2 separate regions of the Homo sapiens genome follow, and region 2 is linked to region 1. A link means that fine-mapping ties the variant in region 1 to the expression of a gene that starts in the linked region. Tissue or cell type: ileum. Region 1 holds a variant in brackets; the other region holds the start of a gene. All regions are shown on one strand. Distances are from middle to middle.

What was found. PIP is the estimated chance that this variant, and not a neighbour inherited with it, causes the effect.
Region 2: it holds the start of MASP1, and the variant in region 1 is fine-mapped to the expression of MASP1 in ileum (GTEx, PIP above 0.99). The same link has a PIP of 0.9 or more in stomach.

What each region holds. Positions count from the first base shown.
Region 1 is chr3:187,260,233-187,268,232 of GRCh38, reverse strand. MASP1 (MBL associated serine protease 1) reads left to right here. Exons shown (of 11, transcript NM_139125.4): 3 at 5,513-5,690; 4 at 7,361-7,492. Among named protein-coding and RNA genes, the nearest start is that of MASP1, 28 kb to the left of the region's middle. The variant C/A (reference allele first, on the strand shown) is at 4,553.
Region 2 is chr3:187,288,459-187,296,458 of GRCh38, reverse strand. MASP1 (MBL associated serine protease 1) reads left to right here and starts at 4,722. Exons shown (of 11, transcript NM_139125.4): 1 at 4,722-4,831. The coding sequence starts at 4,827. LOC101929130 (a long non-coding RNA gene) reads right to left here and starts at 5,187. Exons shown (of 2, transcript NR_135551.1): 1 at 4,923-5,187; 2 at 1-233. RefSeq lists an enhancer at 369-945.

The sequences.
Region 1 (8,000 bases):
TGAGATTACAGGTATGAGGCATCACACCTTGCCCATTACATACATTTTTCTACCTTCTAAGTTGCCGCAGACAAGTTTTGCCAATTGATTCACCATTGCATTATTCAAGTGGTCTGTTTTAGACTCCTATAGCAGTCTCTTCACTGTTTTTCTAGAATTTACTTGCTAGCCAATCCTAAAACTGAAGCCACATATTCTAGTTTTTTGTTACTGCAGCATTCTACTTCTGGTATCAATAACTATTTCAGTCAGACTTCAATCAGGAAAGCAAAGTCTTTATGAGTAATGTGAGATAATGAATATTTATGGGTATTAGAACTCGTAATTATAGAAGGAGCTGGGCAAGTAAAAGTTGGAAATGGGGATTTAAAGGATTAGAGAAAAGGTCACCAAGCAGTTCTCTTAAAGCCCTGGCATGGGTGGAAATATTGGCATCTGCAAGGGAATCTGATAAGTCAATTCTACCTAAGGGGCCAAAGTGCAACAATGAAGGGGAGGCTCATGGAAAAGGGTCTCTGAGAAGCTGTTGGCTGTAAGCAGCTACCACCTCTGTGGTTTCACCTGAAAGTATCTGATGATAGGCATGGGCCACTGTTGGTCATCAGAGCCAGTAGTTATAAAGAGCCGGGTGCAGAGTAGAGGAACGTGAGAGCAAGTGAGGATGTGTTGGACACATCTACACATTTCTTTCTCTGTATGTGATTACAAAACAGCCTTCAGTGAGTAATGACTATTGCCTTTCAAACTTGCACAAATTCCTCTTTTGGCCAACTCTAATCTAGAACTATACAGGGAAAGAAAGTCTGGGGAACGTAGCTCCCAGATTAACTAAACTGGCAACAGGGTAATCCAGCATACTCCCTAAATGTCTGCCTAAATTAAGTCTGCAATGCTCCTCAAGGGCCCTGAGCAGATTTCAGAAAGGCTCCAGGAGATAGCTCGGGAACATTGACAAACAAAGTCATGAGGCATTTGGGTTATAAGACAGCCTTTGTTTATTTGCCTAATGTCTTGAGGAGCACTGGCTAGGGAATCAGGATGCTGCAATTGTGGACCTGGATCCACCACTCACTAGATTCATTTATCATGAGATTCATTCACCACTCACTAGATTCACCAGTCACCTTGCCCAATTTGTTCAAATTATCTGGGCTTCAATTTCCTCATCTATAAAAGGAGAGCAATCCCCCCTGGGCTGCTTTCTCTATACATTGCTTTGAGGAGCCAGTTGGTAGCTGTCAATGCATTTGTTTAGCTGATGTAATGAATTTATGGACATGCAGAGAGCAGCCATACATAGCGAGAGTAGCTGTCCTTCCCTAGAGTAGCTGTTCTTCCATAGAGTAGCTGTCTTCCCATAGAGTAGCTGTTCTTCCATAGAGTAGCTGTCCTTCCACAGAAATTTGGCCAATCCCAGCTGCCCTGCCATAGTTTTGCCTAGCAGGTTTGTGCTGTTTCTGCTGAGGTAGAAAACTCATAGAAACCAAAGCCTCTTGGCTTCTCCTTATCAGATGTGCCTTCCCAGCTCTCTGTCCTTAACAGAGCCCCTTTCTGACGCCAGGTAATGGGTAGTGGGGAGGAGCAGCTGAGATTTGAATACCCCAGGCCTTCACTATTTCCTCTCCCTACATACTCTACCCACCCCCTACCCTCCATCTATGATTTCTACCTGCCTACATTCTATTCACGTTTCAGTCTCCAGCTCAAAGATTATTCTCTTCTTCCTAAATGTTTTCTGATTTCCCTCAGCTGGATTCAATCTTTTCCATTCCTTAAACCCCCAGGGCAGCCCATCTTTGATTGCATTTACGATACCCTGAGAATACCCCAACACATATACCTTTGAGTACTTATCTTATTCTTCTACCAAGTGTCACATTCCTAGAGGCAGGGAACTTGCTTATTGAGCTCGTATAACAAATAAATAATTTTTGGCACCCTTCACATTAAAGTGTAGACAGAACTTAGTACACACATATTTGGTGAATTGAGTTGAAAGAAAACAAATTGAGGACATACAGCCACATGTTGGTGTCCTAAATAACAATAGTCTCTAAGGACATAGTCGCCCACAAGAAGAAATAGAAAAATGAAGAGTTTATTATTCGCAGCCACATGGGTCTCCATTATTATGAATGTTTTGTCTTCACTTGATAAGGTCCCTCCATCATGTTGATATGATGACCTCTGAGAGGGGACAGTCCAAATAGAAGCTAGGTCTCAATCTGCCTATACTCAGAGGTAAATGATCTTTATAGAACTCCATATTCCACAGCACAGGATGCAAATATTAACCGGGACCAGTGACCCCTCTGTTTAGGTTATGACTGGAGCTGTCACTGAGCCACATCCTCTCTAAGAGACAGTCCATGCACCCAAGATAAGGTTTCAAGAGGCCTTTGAGCCAGGAAAATTGTTTGGCCAAGTGTCTGTGTCTTTAGTCATGTACTCTCTGGGTTGGTGGGTTCTTTTCTCTCATCTCAGAATAGTTCCCAAAGCAAAACTGATATCAGAAAATGTTCATGTTATCTCTCCAGCCTTGAGCAAGTCACTTCCCCTCTCTTGACCTCTGTTTCCTATAGAAGGAGGCAGATAGAAATAGCTCTTAAAGGTCCCGCCCAGCTCTGATATTCCAGGACTCTATTCTGAGCTGCAGGCTGAATTCCCAGGGCCCCAGGCTACTGGCCTTCTCTTCTCTGCTTCTAAAAGGATGTATGGCTCAAATTTTCCCATGGGCCTCAGCTGGGGCATGCTTCCTGTTCTCTGGAATACTGTGGCTCTGCAGGTGATAACCATTTATCTGATTTATCTGCCATTATGAAAAGGTCCTTCAGCCCAGACGTTACAAGGAGGGAGGTCATTTATCACAGACCCTCAGTAGTATCTCCCTAATCCAAATGACCAGTGTGTTCACTTGAAAATGTTCATGTCCCAGTCACTGCAGAACCCAAGAGGCACTGGGGATACCAAGTTCCAGAAAGAAGCCTGTGTAGCTGGAACTATTAATGCCCAAGGCATGACTATTCATTATTAACAAATTCAAGTTCATCCGCAAGCAGTAATCCTGCATATGTTAAAACTCCTGCTTACCATCTTCTGGTTGGTTTATATAATATATGACTATGATGATTTGTTAGAACTGTGTTAGACTATGATGACTGCTATGTCTGGAATTGGAAAGGAATCTAGAGCTCAGCTAGTCCAAACCCCTGTTTTTACAAGTGGATAACTGAGAGCTAGAAAGGAGATGGCCCAAAATGCAGAATACGGCAGTGTCAGGAACAGGACCCAGGACCTCCAACTGCCAGGTTCCTGTATATCGTATTACTCCAAAGCAGAGGTCACCAAGATGGTGTACTCTAGTTCATGCAGTTACTCACAGAAGAATCCCTTTCCCAGGCCCTCATTCTAAATCTATTTAGCTTTTTTTTATTAAGTTCTAGCAAAAGCAGTTAACTGGTTTCTAATTCACAACATATTAAAAATAAGCAGACAGAAAAGTACAGTGAATAGGCTGATAAAAAGACAGGAAATAAAACATGACATAAAGAAGACTTCAGAAGTTCAAGGCTTTATAGTCCGGCAATGTTTAACGCCAGGTCAAGCGACATTACACAACTCAATATCCCCAAGATTATCACTTTAATATAGTATCACAATGGTTGACATTCATAACAATGTCCCTGGATCACCAAGAAAGGGTTAGCATGTTTCACTTGAGAAAGTGGGTACTTCTTTAAAGTACTTTTTTTTTTTTAAGTGTTACACCAAAAAGAAAATTTTTAGTTATAGTTAGGTAAAGCTTTGGCTATCTGGAAAACTGAGTCAGATAAAATAACACAGCAGCTGGGAGGTTCAAGGAAGTGACATTTCAGCTGTGTGCAGATAGGCACATTCTATAGTAACAAGACTGGTGTGAGTTCGGCTGGTATCTGCAGAGAAGAGGAATAAATAGCAAAGCCATGATCTCATCTTCTGTTTACACTTCAATTCCCAAAGTTAGTGATTAATTGTACTTGCGTTTTGTTGCCAGGGCAAATTGTTTTTCTTTGAAACTCCCACTTATTTTAAATAAATAAACCATTAGTTTCAAAACAGGAGTGTCAAATGTCAAGATATTTCTGACATGCTAAGCTAACGAACAAAACAATGAATTCATTAGAAGCTACTAGAGATAGCCGCCTTTGAGAACTTTTCTCTAATGACTTTGAAAGGCAGCAGGAATCATTCTTGGTAAGAGATTTTTTTCATGCATCTTGGCTAAAATTTGGTCCAGAGGTTGCAAACACAAATACAACTTAAAAGAATTGGATTAGGTATAAGATAATCGAATAGATACGTCAAGAATTTATACTCAAATAAATATACCAACTAGCTATCATACGAAGCTTCCCAAACTCCTGTCTCACATAAAATCAGCTTTAAGCCACCAGTTTAGGATCTCTGCTTGGATCTCTGAATTCGCACAGGGCCTCTGGCTCTTCCAAAGAAGGGAATTCTTTTAGCAAACAGGCATGTTTTTTGCATCTAAGTCTTAACACAAACATGTACA[C/A]ACAGAGATACACACTCAAACTATTTTTGGGTGATTCCAATAAATAGTTTCTGTATTAAGACTGCCTATTAAACATTAGTTTTCATTACATGACTTTCCTGCTTAAAAGTTTTCAGTGTCTTCCACTTACTCACAGAATTAATGGCATTCAAGGTCAACCATAATTTTCTTTCCATGTATCCTTCCAAGTACATCTCCTCCTACAATCCCCACAGACTCCCTGGCTACTCACTGTTCACAGAATGGGGCTTGTACTTTCAGTTCTTGTAAACAAATGTTTATTGGATAACTATTATGTGCCAGGTCCTGTTCCATGCACTGAAGACACATCTATAAAGAAAATAAAGTCCTTCTCTCCTGTAGCTTATATTCTAATGTGGATTGTTTGCCTGCTTTGAGTGCATATGCAGTGCTTCTGCTTGTGTGAAAGCATTTGTCACACTGTGTAATACCTGCCTGTGTCTGTGTTCCTCAATCTCAACACTGCTATTGTGTGCACAGCACTGTGTCTATCTCTCATCACCTCCATCTCATGCTTTGCTCGGCAGTAGGCACACACTGGATACTCAATGAATGACTTATATTGTGTATACAGTTTCCATTCTTTGGAAATGTGGTAAGTTCCTGTTGTGCAGAGAATCTGTCTGCGAGGTTATCTAACTTTTTAAAACTTTCATATTGAGTTATTTTTAATAAATAAGCTGCTTGGTTATTGACAGCAACAACAAATATCAAGCTACTTCTAATGGAACTAAATAAGACGAATGAAACTGATCAGATGTCCACATTGAATTAACTTGTAATGCGTCTTTTCTCAAGAATCCTTAACCTCCTTTCTTTGGGTTTCTCAGGCTGACTAGCCTACTCTTGGGTGGCCCCTTCCTTTTTCTTTCTAAAGATAAGGAAAGAAGCCTAGCTGGGAAACTGCTCATCTTGTTCCCTTTCTCTTTGACCTCAAAGGTAGAAACTGAGGACCAGGTGCTGGCAACCTTCTGTGGCAGGGAGACCACAGACACAGAGCAGACTCCCGGCCAGGAGGTGGTCCTCTCCCCTGGCTCCTTCATGTCCATCACTTTCCGGTCAGATTTCTCCAATGAGGAGCGTTTCACAGGCTTTGATGCCCACTACATGGCTGTGGGTAAGTTGGAGAAGTGACTCATCCTCAGGTCTCTCTCTCTCTCTCCGAAGATGAAAACTGCCTTGTGACCTCTCCTTTACGATGGAAATCTGTGTGTGCACCACATAGATTTTACCATTAATGTCTTAATGCATTTGCTCTATCACGTATCTATCCATCTATCTACCCTCTATCCATCCAGCAATTCATCTTTTACAAAGTGTTTTAACGTAAATTGCAGACATCAGTATACTTCTTCCTAAATAATTCAGCATGCATATTATTTTGCTAGAGTTTCATATTTGTTCACAGCATTTTTTCTTTTTGTGTAAAATTGACATAAAATGGAATATACATATCTCATGTATACATTTGTTGAATTTTGAAAAATCTGTATTTGTGTGTAACCCAAACCTCTAACAAGACACTGAACTTTACCACCAGCCCAGGGGGTTCCTTTGTGTCCCTGCCAGTCAATCTCTGCTCCCACTTCCCTTAGAGGAAACAACTGTTTTGATTTTTTTTCTGCTGTAGATTAGTTCTTGCCTCTTCTAAAACTTCATTTAAATGAAAACATACAGAATACATTTTGGGGGTGAGGATTCTTTTACTCAGCATAATGTTTTTGAAGTTAATTCATGTGTCGCATGCATCAGTAATTTGCTCCTTTTCCTGGCAGAGTAATTTTCCATTGTATGAATATACTAAAGTATGTTTACTCATTCTCTTATTGACGGCTACTTGGAATCTCCCCATTTTTTAGCTCTCACTAACAAAGTTTTTATGAACCTTCTTGTGCAAGTCTTCTTGCAAACATATGTTTTCAATTCTATTGAGTAAATATGTAAGAGAAGAATTGCTGAGTCATAGGATAGGTATACGTTTAGCTTTATGAGACATTGCCAGACCTTTTCCAAAGCAAATGTAACATTTTTTATCTGTCCACCAATGTATGAGAGTTCTGGCTGCTCCACATCTAAACCAACATTAGATGTTGTCAATTTTTAAAAATTTTAATCACTCTGGTGAGTATGTAGTGGTACCTCATTGTGGTTTAAACTGCATTCCCTTAATGACTAGCAATGTTGAACATCTTTTCATGTGCTTGTTGGCCATTGGTTTATCCCTTTTGGGGAAATGTACATTCAAATGCCTAGGACAGGGCTTGACCCACATTAGGGGCAGAAAGAAAGAAAGAGGTAGCATGAGGTAGAAGTTAAGAGCACAAGCTCTGTACCCAGCTTGTCTGTATTTAAATCCTGGGTCTGCCACTTATTATCTGTGTGATTCTAAGTTTGTTAATGCCTCTATGTCGCCATTTCATCCTCCATAGAATGTGACTAGTAACAGAATGCATAGTAACAAATGTGTAATTCTTCCTGAGGTTGTTGTCCCACACACAGTTATTATTATAACTGTTAGAGGATAGTGGTCCCACCAGAAGTCAAGTTACCTGGGTTTGAACTTGGCTTTTTGTGACCTTGGGTAAGTTGCCTAACCTCTCTGAGTTCCAGTTTCCTAGTCTGTAAAGTGAAGATAATGGCTACCTCTGGGCTGTATGAGAGGATTAAATGAGAGAACGCATGAATCTCCTAACATAGTGAGTGGCCCATATCAAGTGCTCTATAAATGTTGGCTGTAGTCTTCATCATCATGCATGTATTGATGGAGAGGCTTTACCTGCCCTACAGATGTGGACGAGTGCAAGGAGAGGGAGGACGAGGAGCTGTCCTGTGACCACTACTGCCACAACTACATTGGCGGCTACTACTGCTCCTGCCGCTTCGGCTACATCCTCCACACAGACAACAGGACCTGCCGAGGTAGAGCCTACCAATGATTGTATGCATTGCCCTTATAGGCCACATCCTCAATAACATTAGATGAGGCTCAGAGAAAGACAGATATGCAATAGGAACAAGTAAAAATGAAGTCAATGATGCACCTCAGACACCACATGGATGAAGATGCAGAAATGCCCACCCAGCCTGGAAACCTGATCTTGGGTTCCCAAAGGAGAGAAGCTCTAGACTATTTGGCCATCTTTCTTTCTGGGGCAGCATTTTTCACTATACAGGTTGCTGTCTCCTATCCTATTGTAGGCAATTGGTCTGGTCAAGTTAGGGGAAAACTTGGGTTTCCCAGTTCCTTCTCTTTGAGCCACGAATTATGCTTTACCCAGCAACTCCTTTTCTCTTCTTTTCCATGGCCCCTAAGTTCCTCTACAATAGAGAGACCTCAGTCCAAAGCAAAGAAGTGAGAGAGGAAAGAGGCAAACAGAAACAGCCAGAAAACTTCCCATTCCTTCTATCTATCTTTGTTTTCATCTAT
Region 2 (8,000 bases), 28 kb before region 1:
CACATATATAGACCACAAATCTGGTGGAAGCAATACTGGTGATTGAACTGCAACAATACTGCCCATCATGCACATAATCGTTTTTGAACCAGTTAGTAACTTCGCTGGCTTCTTCAGGCAAATGTGGCTTTAATTCATTAAAAGCTCCTGGAATGCCATCAGCTGGAATGAATGCCAATACTGAAGTTTTTGTCATTGCTGTATCACGTGACCAGTCCACTCATCTGAAGTTTCTGCCAAACACATTGGACAGAATGGAAAAAAACAAACTTTATTGGTAATACCTTGAAGTTCACCTTTAGAAACCTCAATCACACCTAATTCCAAATCTGTCTTTATGGTTTGAGGATTCAATTGAAATCCATTTTCCTCTGCATAAAGACAGTGACAAAGTAAAGAGTTCCACCTAATATGATGCAACTATCTTGTGATTTTGATTTTGGGGATTTTAGATGTTAGGGATTTAGACTTTAGAGGTTTTGACTTTTTGGAATTTCCATATTTGGGATTATAGATTTCAGGCTTGTGTCTTTCGGGACTATAAACAAAAACTGTCCGAGATGGAGGTGTTGGCAGATTTGGTTTCTTTTGTGGCTTTTATCCTTGGCCTGCAGGTGGCCATCTTCACCCTACGTCTTCACATGGTCTTCCCTCTGTGTGTGTCTGTGTCTTAATGTCCTCTTATAAAGACACCAATTGTATTGGATTAGGGCCCATTCTAAGGATCCCATTTTAACTTAAACACCTCATTAAAAGCCCTTTTTCCAAACACAGTCACCTTCTGAAGTACTGAGGGTTAGAAATTCAACATATGCATTTGAGGGGAATGTAATTCAGCCCATAACAGAGCCTAATCATTTATTTTTTTAAATAGAAGCTATTTTTTGTCTTCTGTAAAATCTTGTAATCACATGACAGCATGGCACATGAATGTTCAGAGTCCACAAGAAGCACGAGAAATTTGCAGACGACAGGGAAGAGCTTTGCACTTGAGATCAGGGGGCCCTGGGCTCTAGACATACATCATTCACTTACAGGCACGGGCAGGCTTAGTTTCTCTGAACCTCAATGTCTTTACTTGTAAAAAAAGATGTGAATACTATATGCAATAATATATATAAAAGTATCTGGCATATACAAATGACATCTTATCAAATCAAAGGTGCCATCAATTATAAAATGTATCATTATGTTATTTGTACCAAAAGTGGCAAAATCATGCCAGGGGAGATTTTCAAATTACAGATTCAGGAGACTTACCCACAGATTCATTGGGTTTGAATCTCCTGGGATGAAGCTCAAAGATTGTCATTTTTTAAAAATATTTTCCCCATTATTCTGTTGATAGACTCAGAAGCCAGGACTTTCGGCATGCTGTCAGTCAATGTGCTGAAGAACCCAGATTTTCATTCTAAGCTGCCATCTTTGGAGCTATTTATCAGTTTCTCAAATATTCTGTAGGAAGCCTGGATTTCAGCCCTTACCAACAAAAAGTCATTGCCCAAATTCTTTACGTTTTCTAACCCATTCATTGAATTCCAGAAGCTCTAGCTCAAAAGTTGCATAAAATAAATACTTTGGTAGAACATGTAAACCAAAACCTCTTCCAGTGGTAGGAATATTGCCGCATTTACCCTTAGTAGGCAGCTCTCTGATCCCTTTCCCGGACTACAGGACTATAGTGCGCGGGTGCTGAGCCCACCTCAGTCATTCTACGCTTTCATGATTCTAAATGATGTCAGTTCCTTGTATGCATTTTTTAATCGCTTTTGCCAAACTCAAAAAACTAGTTGAACCTTTTTAAATATTACTTTTTCTGAATATCTGTGATTAAATTCTTAGTATCAGTAATATTATGAGCACAGAAAAAGCCAATGTCAAGATTATTAGAGCTATTTTGGACTCCTTGACAATCTTTTAGGTCTAGCAAACTACCTAACCCCCTCCCAACGACATCATTTCATAGTCTTCATATCCACATGTTGATATCTATGATCTCAACTGAGTCCCACCCCCTGATTTCATAATTGAACACACTGATGCCCCACCCCTCCACCCCTCAACCCCCACCCCTGAGAAAGTAAGTGACTTACCCAAGGTCACATGCAAGCTGGCCTATAGTCACTGAGCCCAGTTCTGTTTCCAGCCTAATGTCCCTTCCATTCCTCCCACCCCTGATGACCCATGATCTCTTAGTGACACTTCAGGGAGATTCATCAAAAGCATCAGACAATATGTAGTGTAACCAAGTAGAAAACTGTCCTGAATCACATGCAGATCATTCCTGGGCCACGTAGTTCCTGTTTTTATGCAGATTTCCTCTGAGCCTTGGCTAACTCCCAGGGAAGCGCACATATCAGATCTGCTATATATTGGCAGAACTTTGGCTTAGAACACATCTCGAATGCTTTCCATTGAACATTGGCAGCCTTGAAGAAACATGGCTAGAAAATTATTCCAGGAGGCCTAATTGCTCTGTGACACTTTCCAAGGAGAAGCTGATGGCTTTCTCGCCCAAGCTCTTCCCTCTGTACCCAGAACAAATGACTGCAGTTCCCAGTATATGCCCTAAATTAGGAGAGGGCAAACTCCGTGGCAGCATGAATTGAGGGAATGTCTTTACTGGGCAGGGGCCCTCTTCCCAGCACAGTGTGCATTTTGCCAAGCTCTTTCTCCTTCAGTTTTAAAACCCTTGTGTATTCCAAGAGAAATGTCGTCCATGTGTTTCTGATTCATTTACACGTAAATCATTAAAATGTTGTTTTGTGAGAGTTATTTAATGTGTGCGGAGCCTGTGAGTCTTCTTAACGGGAATGTTAAAAGCTTTTTTTCCTGTGCTGACTGAGACAGAACACATTTTGCTAAAACAGTGCCTGAGTTCAAACATATCCTCCCATCTCATATACTTGTACCTGCTTTATCAACCACAGCCTCTTGATAATGCCAAGCTTGGCAAGGCTGGCATTCAAAAGTGTGAAAATTAGAGAAACTGGAGAGAAAATGGAGTAAGAAGTACAGTGAGAGTCAAGCCACTGTTCCCCAGAACGTGCCAAAGGAACGTTATCTGAGGGTAGACAGTGCATGTGTCTGCCGCTTTGGTGAGTGTGGCTGGCAGCCCTCTCTCTGGTACTCCCCTGGACACTTCTACAAGCACAGTCTTATTTAAGCCTCATAGTAACTCCCATTTTCCAAATGAAGACACAGAATCAGATACCTTAAGTATTGTGCCCAAAGTACACAGCTGTCTTGGGTAGAAAGGAAAGATTACAGCTAAACTCTGAGTCTAATCTTCTTTTCAAAATGACTCAGATTGAGTTTCTCTATGAATGCCGTCTGTGTGTGTGCATTTGAAATTCCATATGCATTATAAAATGTTAATGAGTAGCAGTGTAATACAGTGGCTAACACTTCAAATTCTGCCTCTATTACTTTCTAGCTGTGTGAACTTGGGAAAGTTACTTAACCTCTCTGGGCAATTTCCTCTGAAAAATGAGAATATTGCCAGCCATGTATACAACATATAAAGATGACTGAAAAGAATTCATATATTAAGTGCTTAGAGCAGTGCCTGACACGTAGCACTCAATAGCTGTTAGCTTCTAGTGCTAGTGGCAGTGGGGAGTCATAAATAACTGGATGATCTTGGCAAGTGGCATATTCTCTCTGAGCCTTAGTGTCCTCACTTGTAAAATGAGTATAACAGCAGCACTTTCACCAGTTTGCAAAAGTAACTTGAGATGATGTTAATGACTAGTACTGTGTCTAACACAGAAAAGGTGCACAGTCAAACTTAACTTTTACACCCAGATACACCTCTCCCTATTCAGTGTTGGTTGTTGTTGTTGTGGAGGGGGTAATTTTCTTATTATTCAGCTCATCTTAGATCTAGTGTTGATTTCTCCGGAAGCCATGGGTATAGACATATATACAGGCCCAGGTCTTTCTACACCCCTGGGGAGGTGAGATTTCTTGCTGCGATGGGCCCTTTCTGGGCTGGAGTAGAGCCGCACACACTCCGAGCAAGTAAACAGTGCCACAGGTATTGCTCATGGGGAGGAACAACCAGCCAACTTCAGGACTTGGTGCTTCCCCAGTTCCGGGCCCGTGGCTCTGTTCACAGGAAAACCTGTCGTTGTGTGTGACTCTGATCACGAGAAAACCTGTAGTTATTTGGGGCTCTGCTCACAAGGAAACCTGTAGTTATTTGCAGACAGACGCTCTGGGATTTAGACCTTTTTTTTTTCTTCTAGTGTAGGTGCTAGAATTGCCTTCTTAGTTGGTTGTTTCTATTTAATTGCTTTTCTTTCATGGGTGTCCTGAAGAAAAGCAGAAAATTATAGTCATCTGGCAAAAAAGACTAAAGAGAAATTAGACTTTGTCCCCTTTCACTCTCTCTCTCTCTCTCTCTCTACACACACACACACACACACACACACACACACAGAGTGATACAAATACCTGCTTGAGCCCCTCAGTTATTTTCTCTCAAGGGCTGAAGTCAGCCACACAGGATAAAGGAGGGAAGGGAAGGAGCAGATCTTTTCGGTAGGAAGACAGATTTTGTTGTCAGGTTCCTGGGAGTGCAAGAGCAAGTCAAAGGAGAGAGAGAGGAGAGAGGAAAAGCCAGAGGGAGAGAGGGGGAGAGGGGATCTGTTGCAGGCAGGGGAAGGCGTGACCTGAATGGAGAATGCCAGCCAATTCCAGAGACACACAGGGACCTCAGAACAAAGATAAGGCATCACGGACACCACACCGGGCACGAGCTCACAGGCAAGTCAAGCTGGGAGGACCAAGGCCGGGCAGCCGGGAGCACCCAAGGCAGGAAAATGAGGTACGTGCCAGGGGAGGAGAGGGCACGGTTCCCTTTTGGGGACCAGTGTCAAATAGCAGGGAAGGTCTGACCTTGTCACTGACAGACTCACCTGCGTGTCCTGCATGTGGTAGTGAGGGGCTTTCTCATCAATTCTTAGGGCTCTGAGAAGGGAGCTGTGGGTGGGCTGGGTGCCTTCCCCAGGACTCCAGGAGACATAAAACTTGAAACGGGAGACTTCGTGCAAATCCTGCTCCGGACGCTGCTGAAGCTCAGATTTCTCCCACTGCCTGCACAGGGTGCTGCCTGCTGGCGAATGTGACTCTCCTCCTGTTCACCCACAAGGCTGATTTTTCCGTGTTCCTCCTCTGGAAAGAGCATTGCTTTCTCTCTTCCAGCACTTTGTGAGTTAGATATGTGTTTGTGTGTTCATTCCTTCTGACCAGAAAAGAAACCAGCTTCCCATAGCTTGGCTCTGTGGTTTCTTCAACCTTTACAAGTTTGCCAGTTAAACCTCAATTTAGAAAACTAAAAATCTGTCCCCATTTTACAGTTCCCTATAAATTTTCTGCATTTCTCATTGAAATCAGAGGCAGCTGGTGGCATGAATCAGGCTATGAAGTACACCAAATGGCTCTTAAAGAGATATCATACTTAAAAAAAAAAAAAGGATTTTAGAGTTCTGAAATCAAGAACTTCAAATTCTAATTGGTTTTAAACTCTTTAACCTTTCTTATTCCTCATTATACTTGACACTCCTTACCAGACCTTTCATACAAGTTCTATCCTGCAAGTCTGAAAACCCAACCACCCTAGTTATTTTTATTAGTTAAGTGTTAATGCTGTTACACACACACACACACACACACACACACACAATGCTCTGCAGATGTGTAAGTCCCTAAACACATCTTTTACTATTAATTTTCTTTTCACTTGGGAAAGTGTTTTTATTTGTTTCTCTTCTGCAAAGTAACCTAGCAACTTTTCTGGACCTGAGACCAATGAGAGGCTTCAGACTATGTTAACTCTTTGAACTCCGATTACCTGTGGTTCAGAGAGATAACCAGGTCCTTAAAAAGTGAGTGCAATAATTCTGTTCTTCTTAAAGCCATAGTAATTTTAAACCTGCCATTAAACATCATTTTTCTTTCTCCAAAAAAAAGTGATTTATGTCAATCTACATTGAATGATAATCTCATTTATCTGTCAATGATCTGGTCTGAATCCCACCCTACCATTCAGTGCCCCAGCCCATATCAAACTACTTGGCTGAGTAACAATTCTGTATCTTTGCATATGCTCATCCCTCAACCTGGAGCAACCTTCTTCTTTATTTTCCACCTAGAAGACCTGATTGTTCAAGCTGGCACAAATATCTCTTTCTCTCTCCTGACCACCATATTCCAGAGTGAGCATCCCCTCCTTTGTCCTTTGTTCTGTTTCTGTCCCTTGAAGCTGCATCTCTTATTGTCCTTGTAGTATCCCCTTGTTTAAATGTCCACCTCCCCTTACAAGTCTCAGCACTCCTTAAGTTACATGATCTATGTCTTCATCTTTGTATGGCCAGCACCTAGCATAATGTCTATTTCCTACCAGCCATTCAATACCTATTTGTTGAATTGAATTCAATTTTTGAATAGCCAAGCAACTACGAGAAAGGTGCTCTGCTAGAAAAGTCTCCAGCAGGTCTTGTCTCACATGGATACAGTATTTCAGTGTTTGCAGAGCACTTTCAAGAGCACTGTCTCATGGGGGTTTCAGATTCTGGATGAAGTAAGGATTTATGGATAAGTAGTGGGTATAAAAGCAGTTAAGCAACTTGCCCAAACCACACTGATGATCATGAAAAGGTCCAGATTCAAATTTGGGTCTTCGGGCTCCAAGTTCAGGATTTTTTCTACTATATTCCACTAGACTTTCAGCCAAGTGTATTATTCTAAACTGACGGCTCATAATTCTGACTGTACGTCGGAATGATCTGTGCTGCCTTGAAACATGCCAGTGCTCAGGCCTCACCCCAGAGCAATTAAACCAGAACCTCCTGAGGAGGGACTTTGGCATTAATATTTTTAAATTTTTTACGTAAAGCCATGGGTTTTTCAATTATTTTTCACAGGATTAATTGCTTTGGCCAGATGCCTGGGCATGATATGGGCATGGACCCAGCTTCTTCTGTGAGCTCTTTTTATTCCCTTCTTCTGTTGAAGTTAATTCACCATATGGTATTGAGCATGATGTGACATCTCTTGGGGTATCCTTTTCATCGTCTGTCAAATTAGGGTGCTCTGTAAAGGATCCATGCAGTCCCTTCCAACTCTTCAATTCAAAAATGGAGTCTTGGTGTGGAGTGGGTTGAAACAAGGGGCGTGTACGGACAGTGTATGGAAAAGATAGCAAGTGCCGTTCATGCCGCAATCATAGATATATGCAGGCATTTTTACAGAGTCCTGCTAGCCTGTTCCTACGGGGGGCCTCTGAAATCTCAGCTCTATATATTACTTTTGACATTTCTGCAATGTAGCTAAACTTTTTGATTAGCCGGAGGATAGATAGCAGGTGTTGGGAACTATACAGCCGGTGCCTCGTATACAAGAAGCCAAAAACATTCAGAGAGTGTGACGAGGAATGAAAGCTGCCACTTATATTCTTCAATTTACAGCCCCTAACGCAAGCAGGCAAGCATATGCTCAAGCCCATTACATGAAGGGAGATATTTGTTTCATATGTTTGAAACCGTTTTGAGATGCAAACAAAGTAGAAGGGAAAGCTTCCTGGGCCTTCCTCCCACGCTGACCAGTTGCCTACCACACATGGCACCGGGCTTCTGGGCTACACAGGGCTGTCTGCTGCCAGTCCTTGACAGAACCGGCCTCAGGAGGCTCAGTGTCTCCTCGATGTGGTCTGGAAAAAGCAGTCATGGAGGAAGTTGACCTTTCGGCCTTGCATAATTTGGGTGTCGCTATTATAGGGAAGTCCGGTTTAGGAGCCAAAGCTCATTCCTGACTCTTGCTTTTTGGGAACTGGCAGGATGGAATAATTATAACTAATGTTTGGCTAGGGCTGGACAGTTAACAAAATACTTCCCCATCCTCCTTTACGCTGATAGCAGTGCTGTGGGAAGTCGTTATTATTACTACTTAATGGATGAGGAAACAAGACCTCCCATGACCTCCTAAAATGGAAAGGA